Homo sapiens: one gene and its partners. The protein of the gene in region 3 purifies or fractionates together with the protein of the main gene of each other region. This does not show direct contact. Each region holds a gene or a part of one and is shown on either strand. Other genes may lie near its edges. The genes, in order: MRM2, ZRANB3 and CAMK2D.

Evidence for each region.
Region 1: the proteins of CAMK2D (region 3) and MRM2 purify together in Homo sapiens (co-immunoprecipitation; 3 studies listed by BioGRID and IntAct, with this or other methods). This does not show direct contact.
Region 2: the proteins of CAMK2D (region 3) and ZRANB3 purify together in Homo sapiens (co-immunoprecipitation; 3 studies listed by BioGRID and IntAct, with this or other methods). This does not show direct contact.

The regions. Positions count from the first base shown.
Region 1 is NC_000007.14:2,236,299-2,239,210, forward strand, and holds part of MRM2 (rRNA methyltransferase 2, mitochondrial), read right to left. Parts: intron 1-2,912. UniProt on the Homo sapiens protein: S-adenosyl-L-methionine-dependent 2'-O-ribose methyltransferase that catalyzes the formation of 2'-O-methyluridine at position 1369 (Um1369) in the 16S mitochondrial large subunit ribosomal RNA (mtLSU rRNA), a universally conserved modification in the peptidyl transferase domain of the mtLSU rRNA.
Region 2 is NC_000002.12:135,206,125-135,209,781, forward strand, and holds part of ZRANB3 (DNA annealing helicase and endonuclease ZRANB3), read right to left. Parts: intron 2,855-3,657; coding exon 2,744-2,854; intron 1,713-2,743; coding exon 1,310-1,712; intron 1-1,309. UniProt on the Homo sapiens protein: DNA annealing helicase and endonuclease required to maintain genome stability at stalled or collapsed replication forks by facilitating fork restart and limiting inappropriate recombination that could occur during template switching events.
Region 3 is NC_000004.12:113,503,195-113,506,851, forward strand, and holds part of CAMK2D (calcium/calmodulin-dependent protein kinase type II subunit delta), read right to left. Parts: intron 1,842-3,657; coding exon 1,782-1,841; intron 1-1,781. UniProt on the Homo sapiens protein: Calcium/calmodulin-dependent protein kinase involved in the regulation of Ca(2+) homeostatis and excitation-contraction coupling (ECC) in heart by targeting ion channels, transporters and accessory proteins involved in Ca(2+) influx into the myocyte, Ca(2+) release from the sarcoplasmic reticulum (SR), SR Ca(2+) uptake and Na(+) and K(+) channel transport.

The DNA of each region.
Region 1 (2,912 bases), on a different chromosome or scaffold from region 3:
ATCCATTCTCCAGCTTAATCCAATTGCTTTCAATGTAGAAACTACTGGAAACAAGTCAAGAGATGAGGAAAATGAACAGATATAAAATAACGTACAAAAACTGATATCGGCTAGGTGTGGTGGCTTACACCTAAAATCCCAGCACTTTGGGAGGCTGAAGCAAGAGGATTACTTGAGCCCAGGAGTTCTAGTCCAGCCTGGGCAACATAGCAAGATCCTGTCTCTACAAAAAAATATAAAAATTAGCTGTAGTCTCAGCTACTCAGGAGACCCAGCTAAAATGAGGCGTGAGGCGTCCCATTTTCCTGGGGTGAAGACTGAGGGGTTTCGCCTTTGAAAAATGAGGTAATCTTCAAAATACCTGGACTTCCAATGTTTACACTAGGAATGAAACACGGTCCCTTTCTCTCCCCCTACCGTTGGAACAGCCTTTCTGTTAAGCAGACTGAACAAGAAAATCTGTGACTGTACCCTTAGCTTATCAACTCTGACAATTTCTCAACAGAACTACGGCCCTCCTCAGTGGAGGGGACTGTTGGGGAGATGGGGGCGTTGGGCTTGTGAAGAGGGGGCTTTGAATGTAGGTACAGAGTGAGAAGAGGGGGAGGCAGATGCTGAGATCAGTTATAGGCAACAAGTCTTGTTTTACGTAAGGTGACACAAAGGCATCTTTTTAGTTTTAGCAAACTGGTGTTACTCAAATATCAGCAAGTTATCTTTGTGTGTCTTTGTGTGTGTGTGTGTGAGACAAGGCCTCACTCCGTTGCACGGCCTCAGCTCACTGCAGCCTTGACTTCCCCAGGTTCGAGCGACCCCTGCCACCTCAGCTTCCCAAGGAGCTAGGACCACAGGAACATGCCACCACACCTGGCTAATTTTTTGTAGAGACGGGGGTTTCACCATATTGCCCAGGCTGGTCTCGAACTCCTGACCTCAGGTGATCCTCCCCTTGGCCTCCCAAAGTACTGGGATTACAGGTGTGAGCCACTGCGCCCGGCCTCACGCCTCACTTTATGCTCCTGAGCTTTCACTCCTATAATATCCAGTATGTTACAACCTTCGGAAATTTCCACCGAAGGCAAACAGCTTTGGCTGCATGCTTGTGACTTCCGGGAGGACAAGCCCAGGCAGATCACGCTCACGCTCTCTCCTTCTGTCACTTCCTCCTACAAGGCACGCTGGGCCACTCTCCTGCTTCATCTCAAGAGCACTTAGGGGAACAGAAACCACTGAAATCAGTTACTAGGAGGACTCCACGGTGATAAGCTCAGCAATGAGAAAAGGAACTGACATTTCCAACACAAATTCACTTATTTAGTCAATAAATGTTGAGCTGAAAAACAATAAAAAGGCTTTCAGGCTGACCACGATGGAAGCACCAGGAAGCACCTCGAGGATGCTGGGAGGCAGAGGCGGGCGGATCACCTGAGGCCTGGAGTTCGAGACCAGCCTGGCCAACATGGCAAAACCTCATCTCTACTAAACATACAAAAATTAGCCGGAAATCACTTAAACACAGGAGGCAAAGATTACAGTGAGCCGAGATGGCGCCATTGCACTCCAGCCTGGGCAACAGAGTGAGGCTCTATAAACAAAAAAAAAAAAAAAAAAAAAAAATGCTGTTGAAAAGCCCGAAGAGGCATATCCCCGCCTAAGTATGGGCAGGGGCCACCCAAGGGGATGCAGGTAGACACCAAGAGTTCATGGCAAACCTACCGCAAACCAGCAGCGAGGCAGATGTGCAGATCCAGGGGGCCAGCATTCCATTTCTGCACTTTCAACAAGTCATGAAACCCTGAGCCTGTTTTCTCACCAATAAATGGGGACCAGTGTCCCTACTCTAAGGTATTTGGGAGAGACTTGGGAGAGCTCTGGGTGGACTGTCTCACCCTGTTCAAATGCCAGTGCATGCAGCTACCCTGGCTTTACAGCAGGAAACATAAATGGCAAGGATATTCACCACAGCACACGCATCCCAGCCAAAAGCCAAAAGCAACCTTGATGCCACAGTGAGGGAGCTGGTTAAAGAACCTACGGTGCAAGCACTACATGGAATAGGATGAAACTTTCCCAATGACGACAGTGTCTTCAGTTGCATGGGCGGTTGGCTGATCTCATTATTCAGGAGAACCTTTTTATATAGAAAATCTTACTCAAAACCCTAAGATACAAAACAGATGAAAACTGTGTCTCAGCTTCATCCAGAGCAAAGAATCCATAGCCCTGGCCATGAAGCCTCTTCTAGGTTCCGGACGGAGCAGCCCCAGTGGGGCCACCAGGAAAGCCCCAGGGCTTATGCGACTTGGAAATTTAGCTGTGCTGTTGGGGAAAGATGTCAATACATCATTAAGAGTAGCCGGGCACCATGGCTCACATCTGTAATCCCAGCACTTTGGGAGGCCGAGGTGGGCAGATCACCTGAGGTCAAGAGTTCGAGATCAGCCTAGCCAACATAGTGAAACCCTATCTCTACTTAAAAAAACAAAAAGAAAAAATTAGCTGGGTGCGGTGGCGGGCGCCTGTAATCCCAGCTACTTGGGAGGCTGAGGCAGGAGAATCGCTTGAACCAGGTAGGCAGAGGTTGCAGTGAGCCGAGATCACACCATTGCACTGCAGCCTGGGCAAGAGTGAGACTCCATCTGGAGGGGGGGGAAGAACAAAAATAATAACAATAATAATTATATATATATATATATATATATATATATATATATATATATATATATATATAATACATATATGTATGTATCATTAAGCAAAAATAGCTCCAATAGGCTGCAAATTAGCAAGAAAAGTATGGCACAACATCGCTTTTGAAAATGTGAGGGATCTATGCATGCACAAGCCTGGAAGGATGCACACCACCATGCTGGTGCTGGTACCTGCGGGCGGTCTCATGCGAGGTGATTTCC
Region 2 (3,657 bases), on a different chromosome or scaffold from region 3:
GTATAAAAAAGGAATGGGGTGCTATAATAGATTAAATGAAGCATAAGAGGCATTATAATCAAATATACTATGTGGGTGACATTTTGATTCTAATTTGAACAAAGTAACTATAAAATACTTTTTTTTTTTTTTGGAGACAGAGTCTTGCTCTGTTGCCCAAGCTGGAGTGCAGTGGCATGATCTTGGCTCACTGCAACCTCTGCTTCTCAGGTTCAAGCGATTCTTCTGCCTCAGCTCCCGAGTAGTTGGGATTACAGGTGCTTGCCACCACGCCTGGCTAATTTTTTATACTTTTAGTAGAGATGGGGTTTCTCCATATTGGCCAGGCTGGTCTCGAACTCCTGACCTCAGGTGATACACCTGCCTTGGCCTCCCAAAGTGTTGGGATTACAGGTGTGAGCCACTGAGCCCAGCAAAAGGCATTTTTGAGACAACCTGGGAAACCAAACATAGACTTAGTATAATTAAGGAATTGTAATTGTGTTGGGTGTGATAACTCATACTGGGATTATATTTAAAAGAAAGAGAGGAAAGGAAATGAGGACAAGCAAAGAGGGAAGGAGGAAAGGAGAAAAGGAAGGAAGGGAGGAAGGAAGGGAGAGAGAGAGAAAGGGGAAGAGGGAGGGGGGAACAGGGGAGGGAGAGGAAAAGAAGGATAGAAGGAAGGAAGGAGGTCTTTACCTGTGAGAGATACAGAATGAAAATATTCAAGAGTGAAAAGAAACGTTTGGAATTTTCTTTAAAATAATCTAGGAGATGGCCGGGCATGATGGCTCATGCCTGTAATCCCAGCACTTTGGGAGGCTGAGGCGGGTGGATCACCTGAGGTCAGGGGTTCAAAACCAGCCTGGCCAATATGGTGAAATCCCGTCTCTACTGAAAATACAAAAATTAGCCAGGTGTGGTGGCACATGCCTGTAATTCCAGCTACCCAGGAGGCTGAGGCATGAGTATCGCTTGAACCCAGGTGGCAGAGGTTGCAGTGAGTTGAGATTGCGCCACTGCACTCCAGCCTGGGTGACAAGGGCGAAACTCTGTCTCCAAAATAAATAAATAAATAAATAAATAATAAATAAATAAATAAATAAATAAAATATTCTAGGAGAAACAAACAAGTGAGTCAATGACAGATGAAAATGAATGCCAAAATGCTGTAAACTGTTAAAGCTGGCTGATGGACATATGGGTCCATTATTTTCTTTCCTTTTATATATCTGAATATTCCCATGTTAAAATGTACAAAATAGAGAGTCAATATTCATTACTCAGTACAATGCTGCCTTCTATCTATCACATGATTATAACTTACCTGTTCTAATGGGAGCTTTGAAGTCCAGGTAGCATACAGAAGATTCTTCCTCTGACTTTTAGGGGCATCTCTCAGACGTAAAAAGAGTTCTTGTGCGTTCACATTACAGAGCTGACACACACCATGTTCAGTTTCAAATACTTTGGCTCTCAGGTAACTGTTATTAGATCGAATCCAAAACTCTTCCTGACATTTCAGAGAGCAAAACCGTGAATCCCAAGAGTTCGCTTTACATGCTTGCTTAGTCTGGCAAGTGGGTTGCTGACAGCGAAGGCAAAGTGGATTTCCTTCATTATCCACAGCTTGCAAATAGCCTTTGGATGTAGAGGGCTTCACAGTGAGATCTGCCTGGACTGTGTATGGATTTAGAAATGGGACACAGGCTCCATCTTCAAGAAGTTTTCTACAATTGATAAAAACACTGAATAGGTAACTAATGAATGATTAGGCTAAATAGTAATTGCTTCATATAAAGGTTATCAAAGTTTCAATACGGATAAATAGTAAACACAGATCACAGTGTAGAAATAAAATAGTTACAGTCAGCACTCTATATTCCATGCCAAGTAAAGAAGAATGGTGTGTTACAAAAATTAATTGAATATAAATATGTTGCCTCTCTTGGGAATTAACACAAGGGGATGCCCTTGTGTTAAACGATCTGGAAACATGTGAAACATCTGGAGAAGCTGTTAGAAAATGCTTCTTCAGGCTGGGAAAGGACAGGCTAATGTAAAACCCCAACCAAAGCTTAGTGGCTACCCTGCTCCTTAAATATATGTGGTCACACACCTCATTAGCTCAGAGAGGTAATTACAAACTCTCTCCTCCAGCCTCTGCTAGCTCACAGGAAATAGAGTCACAGCCATAAAGTGACAGAGTGAAATAGCTGACAGTGCTGATAGGAATTAGAACAGAAGACTTGCTCTTATAGGTAAACGCAGAGTGGATGAAATTAAACATGATAGGATACAAAACATGATAGGATATGTGCTCAATTTGTTAGAATAAAAGAAAAGGTACACTACTCAATTTTGTTAGAAAGTCCTACTTGGGAAGTAACAACAGCTGCTTTGTCTGTTTTCCATGGTTGTTTGTTAGAAGAGTTAAAAGAAAGACTTCTAATTATGGAGCTCAAGATTCGGGGACAGAGCCCAGATTTAACCTCAGGTCTCCTGGCCTCTACCCGCAAGCCCTGGGGCAGGTTACTTAGTCCACCTGGTCTCAGTGTCCTTCTTCATCTCTAATGTTTAAAATGAGGACACCAGGTACCTCAACAGGTTGCTAGGACAACTGAAGAGCTACTATCTTGTGAAAGTTCTTTGTAACCTCTAAAGTGGTCATGCAAAGGTGAGATATTATTATGAAAATCAATACATAAATGTAAAGGAGTGGAATTAGTACTACTATATACTAGTAGTAGAAAAACCTTACTTTGTGAAAGGATCCCGTGGCCTGGACTCCTTTGTGATCAGACGGACATGGCCCCCAACATTCTTCACTTTGTCCATTGAGGCTACGGCAACATCTTCTTTGGTTATGTATCTAAAACAATGATATGTTAAATAGATTCCCTCTATCTCATATAAAAATGTCTCTATTGCATGTTTACATTGTTCCTTGCAAAAGCAATAGAAGAAAAAGCAAGCACAATTCTATTAACTGTGCTGAAACTCAAGTTAGAAAATGGAATTTTTACCCTTTATCTTGGTGTCCATTATGTGAGAAATACATCTCTTTGTTCCAAATTAGTTTTCTCAAATTTCTTTTTCTAAGAAATTCAAGAGTCATTCAATATCCTTTGGAGCAATTTTCATTTAGGGGAAAAAGGAGTCGGTGTGAGAATAAGAAATGATCAAATACACGCACAACTGACAGCCTTAAGGAAACTGCTTGGCAAGCTGTGCAGAAAATCTCTAACTGTATTTTACCTCCCTCTTGGCCTTCCCTTCAAGGCTTCTCCAAATCACCTTAGTCAGTTATAATAGTGTATCAGTGTTTGGGTAAACTGAGTTTCTTTTTAGTTAACCAGGTTCAATCACATCTTCTGTAATCTCAAGGTTGTTCCCCTTATTATCAGCCCATACAGGGTTTATGGATTCTTCCACAGAAATAAAGCCACTCTTGATATGGGATTCAGAACCTTATTACCCAACACTAACAATACCACACAATGTTCAGGGACTAGAAGTAAAGAGAAGTTATTCCCATTAAAGGTGATGGGGGAATTTAAGTTGGTAAAATGCAATTACCTGATTAATTCCTTCTTATTAATTGGCCTAGTTTCTCTGGTGGTTTACACCTATTGTAGATTTTTTTGGAAATTAGTTTAAACATGAATTTCTTAA
Region 3 (3,657 bases):
TGCAAAAGACCTTATTCTTGATCAGCATTCAAACAAGGCTTTGATATTTAGAGATCTGAAGAGGCACTCACTGTTTCACTTAATCCTATGCTTTCCTTTCTTCTTTAATGAGTGGCCTGTGAACGTCTGTCCCATAGAGAACTGGCCAAGGACACTGGAGCTAAAACTCTGAGATGATTTCAAATTCTCAGAGAAGATATTTTTTCAGTTATATTGGTTTGAAACTCGATTATGGTGTCATTAATTAATACGTAACTGAATACCCTTATAAAATCTAGAGCCATTGGACAACACTTAAAAAAAGACTATACTAAAGAATCCATTTCAAAAGACCATAAAAAAATTTTAAGGAACATTTAAAAAGTTTAAGGGACTAATCATGAACTAGAACTAATCTACTAATCTAGAACTAATCATGTAATCACTATAATTTGAGGCATACTGCTATTAAATCCTGTATTAATTCATATCTAAAAAACTTCTACTTTATGGACTATATATACAGGATATCTGGCTATAAAGTCATGCTTTTTTATGAAGAAAGTATGGGTTTTCTATTGTTTTCTATCAGAAAGCAAAGAAATATTCCCAAGTGGAGAATAACATTCAAATAACTGATGTAAAAAAAGATTCAATATGCATACATCAGTGACATGCTTGGCACTTTCATTGTGTGATATCTTGGCAATGGGGAGGTACTGCAACCCACTGGGAGTTCTCAATCATGGACACTCCCCCACCACTACAGTTTACACTGCTGTAATATTGAGAGACATATCTCCTGCTTCCATTCTCCCTTTCCCTTGGCTACAGCTGTGATCAACATTGTTTTTTACTAGTAGATAACCTGTTATTTTGATGTGTCCTCCTTTTAAATGTTTTTAAATGGAGCCTCATGGTTAACTCAAGTGAAATGATTCCTTAACATTTTTAAATTTATTTAAAATAACAGTATGAGAAGAGCAAATAATTGAAAAACATTTCTGAAAATCATAAATCAAAATATGAAACAGTTTAGGGAAAATGTTATGGAACTCAGCACTGAATGACAGTATTCAAATTCTGAATTTTAACATAATACCATCTCAAAGTGTTAGACTAATTTAGTCGTTAATTGTGTGGATTTGATTGAGATAGACATAACTGGTTTCCACTGATAATTCAAACCTCTATTCTTTGCAGTTTCATTCTTTGGATTAAAGTGAAACAGTGAAAATTTAATTTAAAACATAATAAACAGAAAGCTCTAAATTATCCAGTGCCTCTTTATCTCAGAAAGTGAAGTCTTACAAAGCCCTGTTGTGTTTTAATAAGAGGGAAACGAGAACTCTGAATAAGGTCTACTTTCATGTTGTCTAGCAACAATCCCATTAGCTCTCCTTGATGTAAGCATTTGCATCATGAAAAGAAGAAACCATTGTTTGCATAATCTAGAACTATCATCATCAGAAGAGCTAAGAGCAACCAAAGCGCTGTATTTTGAATGCAGCATGCAGTAATTCCAACTACAGAGACCACAGCTATCAGTACAATGTTCAACAACGAAATGAGATAATCTCATGTTAGAACACACTGCTTGACAACTAACTTAACCAAAAAAAACCAAAAGAAATGAACTTGGTCATATCATAGAAAGCAAAAAAAAAAAAAAACAAAACCCAACACCCAACGAAATAAAATATTTATATATATGTATCTATATAGTGAAAGCAAATGAGAGAAACCACAAAAAAAAAAAAATGTAAAGAACTTAAGAAGGGTTACAAAGAGTCCAGGTATACCAGCGCTGGGGTAGGAATATTTTCTTTGGGGCTGGTTACCACGTTGGCTTTGTTGTTTATCTGTGGGTATGCAGAAAATAGAAACAGAGATGCCTTAAACCCCTTGGTAGCCAATGTCTCTAGATGCAGCATGTCTACATAGAGATGTAGACATGAAGATAAAGAGCCACTGAAGATGAACGTGAAAGACATGGTGATGACTGACAGGAATGATGATCGCTAGTCTCCGATGGTCACACACAGGCTGGACCATGTCCGTGATGGTGCAATGAGAAAACAGACGTGTCTGCTGTTGCTATGCCACCTTAGCAAACAAAGAGCTGCTTCAGTGGAGCTCCAATCAGGTTTCAGAGTATGAAATTAATATAACCATTCTCATACTGTTCAAGTTGGATTCTGTTTCCAAGCTTCCAATTGTTCACAGTTATAAATATATTTCTTTCTTCCCTCATTTTATTCTTGAGCCTGAAGTCACACACACACATACATCTTTCTCTGGGGATCCAGCATTACTTTGCTTAGGAGCAATTAAATTATCCAATGAAAATTTAGATCTTCTGAGAAAACGCTGGTGTCACAATAGCTTTTAAAAATGACAAGTGTAGATCTCCTCTAAAAATTACATCTTCAATTATTAGTGGGGAAATCAAACTTTTTATGTTGAATGTAAAAGGACTTTAATTTTTACAGTTGTGTAAGAGGAAAATACTACATTTTCTGTCAATGTGCTACTGCTATCACTGCAGAATATATTTGGTAATATCATTCCCTTGCTTTAACATAACTGGATTTGACTTTAAAGAATATATCATTACCACTGTGGAAGCTGCGTGGTAAAAGCAACTCAGAGGGTCAATAAGTGTTCTAACGGTCCACAGAGAAGACTCTTTGTAGACAAGTGGCAATCAGAAACTACAACTGAGTCGGGGCACTAAGAATCAAGGACTGAAAAATAATAATCAATCAACATTCTTTTAAACTCATGCATGACAACTTACATTACGGTTCTCAAACAAAAATGTAAGGTAACGTTCATTTTCTTATACTATATTATCTAGGTATTTTATTTATTATTTTCTAAAGGAATATACCTCCATGATTTTAATATAAATATAGATAATGATGTAAAGAGAAACATATACTATATAAAATAAATGAGTATCAAATGAGCATTTCAAGTGGTGACACCAGTTTAATTGTTCGGGTTTTCTGGAAGTCTATATCTGATAACTATATATCCTGTCAAAACTAGTATTGAGAGGAAGATAGAAAGTAACATAAATTAATTTAAATATGTAATATTTTTCCTTTCTTTTCATTCCCTTTTGTCTGATTACTGGTATCGTTATTTTTACAATAAGTTGTGACACTGTGCTGCTTGACCCACAGAAAAGGATGAGAAAACTTCTAAACTTTCCTTTACTGGAAAATTCTATAAATGTTGTCATCAATCTATATTCTGCAGATAGTTAAAACCTTTTTTTTCCTTTAAATCAAAGTGCACAGAATTTAACATGATATTTGTGCAAGAGCCAAAGAGATAAGAGGTAAAAAGTCTATTAAAGAGGGATCAAAATTCAGTATTTATGTTAGTACAGGGTACGTGAGAAAAGGGGAGGGATGCACACACGAATAATTTCCTATTCGGGAAACATGCTAGGCAAAACATAGCCGGCTTCCTGTCAAATGAACAGGGGCACTTATGGTTAAAGCACCACATGTATTTAATATGCTATATTTAGTTTTTATCAGTGAATGCAAATGAAAGAAATATTCTGAGATACTTTTATTTCTATTTTGGGATATGATACTTGACTTTTTTCTAGGATGTGGTTGCCAAGAACTGCTTTATTTTAGTGAAAATGTCCCACTTGCA